Homo sapiens: one gene and its partner. The protein of the gene in region 1 purifies or fractionates together with the protein of each later gene. This does not show direct contact. Each region holds a gene or a part of one and is shown in the gene's direction. Other genes may lie near its edges.

Region 1 (3,500 bases):
ATATTCTAACTTTTCAATAGTTTTACAAGATAAATAACTAAGTTTAATTCTTTAGATTGAGGAAAAGAAACAAAGAGAGGAAGCAGAGCGAGAGAGACTGAGAATTGCAGAAGAAAAAGAAGAAAGACGGCTTGCAGAACAGAGGGCACGAATTCAGCAGGAGTATGAAGAGGAACAGGAAAAGAAAAGAGAGAAAGAGGAGGAGGTACATCTTTTTTCCCTATTGTATTTTACTACTTAGTCTGAAGGTGAAATCTTTGACTTGAAAAGGTATTTCTTACTTATAAAGGAGAACAGTGTTGGAGTACATTTAGAAAATATCAGATCAATATACATTCTTTGGATATTATTTTATTAAGGTGAAAGGGTAATTTAAGAAAGGAGATAAGTGATGACTTTAAAAATATAGATGTAGGCTGACTGAAGACTTTATAAAAGATGCCTAATATTTTATTTTTAAGCAGACAACTTATGTTAAAGAACACCATATCATGTCATCTATATCTTTATCTCATTTTATCAGATAAATAAGGCAGCACATTTTTGAATGTACTATAGAAGGAATATATGGAATGCATATTTCTCTTTTTATTTTAAAGCAAAGGCTAAAAAATGAAGAGCATATTCGGTTAGCTGAAGAAAGACAAAAAGAAGCAGAAAGAAAGAAGAAAGAAGAAGAAGAAAAATATAACCTGCAACTTCAGCACTACTGTGAAAGAGACAATTTGATTGGGGAAGAAACAAAGGTAAGTTTCAGACAAAAATGTCAATCAAACCCATAGTTTAACTCACTTTCACTGTGAGAGTTGTACAGTTGTTAGAAAAGGGGAGAAAGAGGAGGAGGTGCTTTTGTTCCTGTTCTGTCTTACTGTTTAGTCTGGGCACAATGTACTGAACTTTCTGTAGGAGGTACTGTCACTGTGCTTTGTTGGTATTTTCTGTCCATTGAAGGTAATGGATTTACTTACTTGAGCCATTCTTAGTCTCATTCCCATGGTGTATGCGGTGCCACCCAAGAATATGGTCTGCAGACAGTACAACATGAACTGTTTGTTATGGTTCATGACAAGACTAATACAGAAAGTGAGAGTGGTTTATATATATATATATATGTATTCTTTTTTTTTTTTTTTTTTTTTTTTTTTTTGAGACATAATCTCGCTCTGTTGCCCAGGCTCTGGAGTGCAGTGGCACAATTTTGGCTCACTGCACCTCCACTTCCTGGGTTCAAGCAGTTCTCCTGCCTCAGCCTCTCAAGTAGCTGGGACTACAGGCACACGCCATCATGCCCAGCTAATTTTTGTATTTTTAGCAGAGACGGGGTTTCACCATGTTGGCCAGACTGGTCTCAAACTCCTGACCTCAGATGATCCACCCACCTCTGCCTCCCAGAGTGCTGAGATTACAGGAGTGAGCCACCACGCCCGGCCTTCTCTCTCTTTCTTTCTTTCTTTCTTTCTTTTTCTTTCTTTCTTTCTTTCTTTCTTTCTTTCTTTCTTTCTTTCTTTCTTTCTTTCTTTCTTTCTTTCTTTCCTTTCCTTCCTTCCTTCCTTCCTTCCTTCCTTCTTTCTTTTCTTTTCTTTTCTTTTCTTTTCTTTTCTTTTCTTTTCTTTTCTTTTCTTTTCTTTTCTTTTCTTTTCTTTTTCTTTTTCTTTTTCTTTCTTTTTGTTTTAAGAGACCAGGTCTTGCTATGTTGCCCAGGCTGATCTCAAATTTTTGGGCTCAAGTTATCCTCCTGCCTCAGCCTCCCAAAGTGGTGGGATTGCAGGTGTGAGCCACCACACCCTGCCTCACAGATAATTTTTTATTGTAAAATTCATCATTTAAGAATTTAAGGTCGAGGCAGGCGGATCACTTGAGGCCAGGAGATCGAGACCAGCCTGGGCAACATGGTGAAACCCCGTCTCTATAACAAATACAAAAATTAGCTGGGCGTGGTGGCAGGCACCTGTAGTCCCAGCTACTCAGGAGGCTGAGGCAAGAGAATCGCCTGAACTTGGGAGGCGGAGGTTGCAGTGAGCCGTGACTGCACTGTGGCACTCCAGCCTGGGTGACAGAGCGAGACTCCATCTCAAAAAAAAAAAAAAAAGAATTAAACAGAATTGTTAGTTTCCCATAATTATATTTCTTGTAATTTCTTATGTTTTTTAAAAATGCTATTTTTTAAGGAATATATACTTTTATGATATTATAATTTAATTGTAAAGTACCATAAAGTTTTAAATCAGCTTTATCCCATTTAATGCATTTGCCTTTCTGAAATTAACATTGCTATCATTTTCTTTCATTTATGTATGTCTGATATATATATATATTTTTGTCTATTCCTTCAGTTTTACCTTTGTGTCACCATATTTTTTATTTAGTTAGCTTCTATCTTTAGTTTGTTGAATTTTTAAAATCCTAATCTGAGTTATAATCTTTTTATTTTTATTTATTTATTTATTTATTTAGAAATAGAGACTCGCTTTGTTGCCCAGGCTGGAGTGCAGTGGTGCAATCTCGGCTCACTGCAACTTCCGCCTCCCAGGTTCAAGTGATTCTCCTGCCCTAGCCTCCCCAGTAGCTGGAATTACAGGTGCAAACTACCACACCTGGCTAATTTTTATTAGAGACGGGGTTTCACCATGTTGGCCAGGCTGGTCTTGAACTCCTGTCCTCAGGTGACCTGCCTGCTTGGCCTCCCAAAGTGCTGGGATTATAGACATGAGCCACTGCACCTGGCCTAATCTTTTAAAATAGGGATATCTAAATCCATTTATGTTTATCAAAACTAATGTCTTTGCATTAATTGCATTTCTGACTTTTTTGTGTTTTTCTTCCTTGATAGCTTTTTGGTCTTTTGTTATGTGTACTATGGCTTGTTTGCTCCATCCTCTACAGGGATTTAGAATGTCTATGTTGTATTTACAATGAAGTTTTTGGACTATAAGGTTTAATACACTATAAACTGAAATATAGAACCCCATCGTGATCTTGAAAAGTCCCTCATCCATGATGCTGTTAGTGATTAGATCTAGATTTTCGAGGTTGATTTGTATTGCTTTCCAGAAGGATTTTGTTATTTAATTTTTTTGTATTGTCATGGTACCTTTTTATTATTAAAGATGATTCTTTAGTTTTGTTATATTTTTTCTTTTTTGTTGCTTTACTTGTGTTTGTTGATTTTTTAAATCCTAATCTGACAGTCATACTGTTTTAATAAAGATGTCTAAATCCATTTATGTTTATCATAACCAACATGTTTGATCTTATGTAATTGAATTTCTGACTTTTGTAGAAAGCATTTTATTAAATAAAAGCAATAACAATCTAAACTTCTTAGATGACTTTCTTAACTATAAGGGGTGTGTGTGTGTGTATATATGTGTGTGAGTGTGATGAAGCAAATATGCTCTTAAATTTTTTAAATTTTTCAGCACATGAGACAGCCTTCTCCTATAGTTCCTGCTCTTCAGAACAAAATTGCAAGCAAACTCCAAAGACCTCCTTCAGTTGAC
Region 2 (3,500 bases), on another chromosome or scaffold:
GATTCCTTATATAAAATGGAATATTTACCTCTCCCCTTCCCATCACTGGCTTTCAGTAGTCTGGGAAAAATGAGATCACTTGTTTTGGTTGGCCCTATTAAATGCCGTTTGTATATTTTAGTCGTCTATATAGATTAGTGGTCATCAACTTGGGGCACTTTTGAAGCCCAGGGGACATTTAGCAATGTGTGCAAACATTTTTTATTTTCACAATTAGTGGAGCGCCACTGATATCTAGTAGACAAAGCCAGAGATGCTGCTAAGAATCAGATTATCCAACCCAAAATGTCAATAATGCCAAGGTTGAGAAATCCTGATGTAGAACTTAAATATGAAGCATGGAATCAGGGCTGGAAGAAAGGGGGAAATTCAGTCAAGTTTTGTCTTTCGTTTGTTTTGGGTTTCGGGTACTTGCGATGATTCAAGCATATGTTAAGCACTTAACTTACATTAGCTCTAATTCTCACAGTAGCAGGTGAGGTATCCCCATTTTCAAAGAGAAGACAGCAGTTCAAAGGTGTTAACAAGTTTAATTAAGGCACTTAGCTAGAAAGTAATGAGGCCTAGATTTATTTTATTCCAAAGTCCGTTCTTTCTGCATTACCACACTTCTTCAAGCAACAAACAGTCAAGTCATCCTTAATGATTCTTTTAAAAAGTATTTTCAGTTATATACACATTTACATTGTCTCACTTATGAAGAGAAACAAAGAGATGATATATTTATATCAAATTTCTAATGTTGATAATTCTAAATGTATTTGAAGCCAGGCATAGTTGCTTATGCCTATAATCCCAGTGCTTTGGGAGGTTGAGGCAGGAAGATCTCTTGAGGCCAGGAGTTCAAGGCCAACCTGGGCAACATAGCGAAATGCTGCATCTACAAAAAAATGAAACAGTAGAATTAGCTGGGAGTGGTGGTGTGCACCTGTAGTCCCAGCTGCTTGGATCACTTGAGCCTCGCTTGAGTTGGGAGTTGCAGTGAGCTATGATCACACCACTGCACTCCAGCCTGGGTGACAGAATGAGACCCTTTCTCAATAAATGTATGAATGAATGGATTTCATCATTGATAGAGCAGTAATTGAATTTTATAGCTGGCACTTGAAATTGTGAATATAATTCTTACCCATCCTTTCACTGAATATCAAAAATATTATCAAAACAACCTACCTAGAACAGGACAGGGAAGCTTTTAGAAAACCTGAGGATGAATTCTAAAAGAACAAGCTACAGAAAATAACATATTTTTTCCAATTCAAAGAAATTTCCTCCTCTGCAGCCTTCTCCCTCCCACAGAAACATCTCCTGTTTATCAAAGGTCCCAGCACCCTTGAACTCCATTCATAAGTTCAGTACAGAAAATTGGGATCATTAAATTCCTTGGAAAAGAATCCTGAAATTGCAGTATTTAGAGTTGGATTAGTATTTAGAGTTGAATGTGGATAGAAAATGTATAGTTATTGGTAAATTAAGGATACCGTGCTACAGTTTTTCTAATTTATGAGTTTTTGATATTTGGCAATATTTGGATATTTCTGTTATAAATGTCTATGAAAAACATGCCCATTGTAAAAAAAATTAGAAAAATTTCAAAAAATGTACTTAGCAAGGTTAGTATAAAATCATAATTCCATAATATTAAAAAAATCATAATCCTGTCATCTTAAGGCAAGGTAACTGGCATTTCCTTGTCCCAGTGTTGGTTTAGATAATATTTTCTTTATAAGAGATGGATATAGATACCATTTTTTGTTTGTATACATTTTTATCTAACTTTATGTCATAAGCCCAATGGCTGCATAGAATTCTCCCATATAGAGGTATCATAGTTTTCTTCCAGCATTCCTATAGTAATGGCAGTTTATGTTGTTTCCAGTGTTATGCTATAAATAAATAATATTACAACCTTTTTCATAAATCTTTGCCTTTCTGATTATTTCTTTAAGATAAACTTTCAAACAAGAATTGCTTGGTGTCAATGTTTTAAAATTTCTTATGCTGGGAAATTGACATCTGGAAAAGCAGGGTACCCACTGGATATTGGTACCCCCTGGACCCGTTCTTTGCCATCTCTTAAGAAATGAAGTGACTCAACTATTTAGTTAATTTTTAAATTATGAATAACATTGAACAATTTTTCACATGCATTTAGTCTTTACCTGTATCTTGAAGTCACGAGTGCATTTTCACCTTAGAGCATGTGGAATATCTTTGCCTGGAATTCTTTGCCCAAATCTTCAGATGGCTGGCTTCTATTTTTAGTTTAGGTCTTAGTTCAGATGTTAATTTCTCTGACTTCCCAATTTAAGGACTATGCTACAGTCCCCACACCCCATCCCAGGTATTTTTTGTAGTATTACCATTTTTTATTTTCCTTTTAGTACTTATCACTAGCTGAAATGATCTTGTTTTTTATTTCTATTTTGTTTTTAAGCTATTTATTTTTATTTCAATAGGTTTTTGGGAACAGGCAGTGTTTGGTTACATAAATAAGTTCTTTAGTTAAACTTTTTATTTTGAAATAATTTCAGTCTTACAGAAAAGTTGCAAGAATAATACAGAAATTTTTTATATACCCTTTACTTACATTCCCCAAATGTCATTTTGGCTATATTTGCTTTGTTTTATTCTGGATGGCTCTCTTCTCTCTCTCTCTCTCTCTCTCTCTCTCTCTCTCCCTTTCCCTTCTTTTCCCTCCCTCCCTCGTAAGACAGTGGTAAGTATTCATGTATTTGTATCTAAGCACATCTAAACACAGAAAAGGTAGAGTAAAAATACAGTAGAAACGATAGAAAAGGTACAGTAAAAATACAGTAGAAAAGGTAAAAATTGTACACTTGAATAGGACACTTATCATGAATGGAACTGTAGGACTGGAAGTTGCTCTGGGTGGGTCAGTGAGTGAGTGGTGAGTGAATTTGAAGACCTAAGATATTACCATACACTGCTGTAGACTTTATCAACACTGCACTTAGACTACACTACATTTATTTTTTAAAATGTTATTTCTTCAATAATAAATTAGCCTTAGCTTACTGTAACATTTTAACTTCATAAACATTTAAAATTTTTTTAACTTTTTACTTTTTTGTAATAGCTGCAAACATAAACATGTATTCAGCTGTAGAAAACTATTTTCTTTATATCCTTAGTCTGTAACCTTTCTTCCTATTAAAAAATGTTTTTAAAACTTTTTAAACTTCTTTTAAAAAACGAAGACACAAACACACATATTAGCTGATGCCTACACAAGGTTGGGATCATCAATATCACTGTTTTCTACCTCCACATCTTGTCCCACTAGAAGGTCTTCAAGGGCAATAACAGGCATGGAGCTGTCATCTCCTATGATAACAATGCCTTCTTCTGGAATACCCCCTGAAGGACCTGCCTGGGGCTGTCAGATAATTAATGTTTTTTTAAATAAGTAGAAGGAGTACACTCTAAAATAACTTGAATAGTAATAAATAGTATAGTATAATAAATATATAAACCAG

Evidence for each region. Proteins that work in one complex are often made in the same cells at the same time.
Region 2: the proteins of CSPP1 (region 1) and HOMER1 purify together in Homo sapiens (affinity purification with mass spectrometry; 2 studies listed by BioGRID and IntAct, with this or other methods). This does not show direct contact.

The regions. Positions count from the first base shown.
Region 1 is NC_000008.11:67,158,392-67,161,891, forward strand, and holds part of CSPP1 (centrosome and spindle pole-associated protein 1), read left to right. Parts: intron 1-55; coding exon 56-205; intron 206-599; coding exon 600-746; intron 747-3,419; coding exon 3,420-3,500. UniProt on the Homo sapiens protein: May play a role in cell-cycle-dependent microtubule organization.
Region 2 is NC_000005.10:79,392,135-79,395,634, reverse strand, and holds part of HOMER1 (homer protein homolog 1), read left to right. Parts: intron 1-3,500. UniProt on the Homo sapiens protein: Postsynaptic density scaffolding protein. Binds and cross-links cytoplasmic regions of GRM1, GRM5, ITPR1, DNM3, RYR1, RYR2, SHANK1 and SHANK3.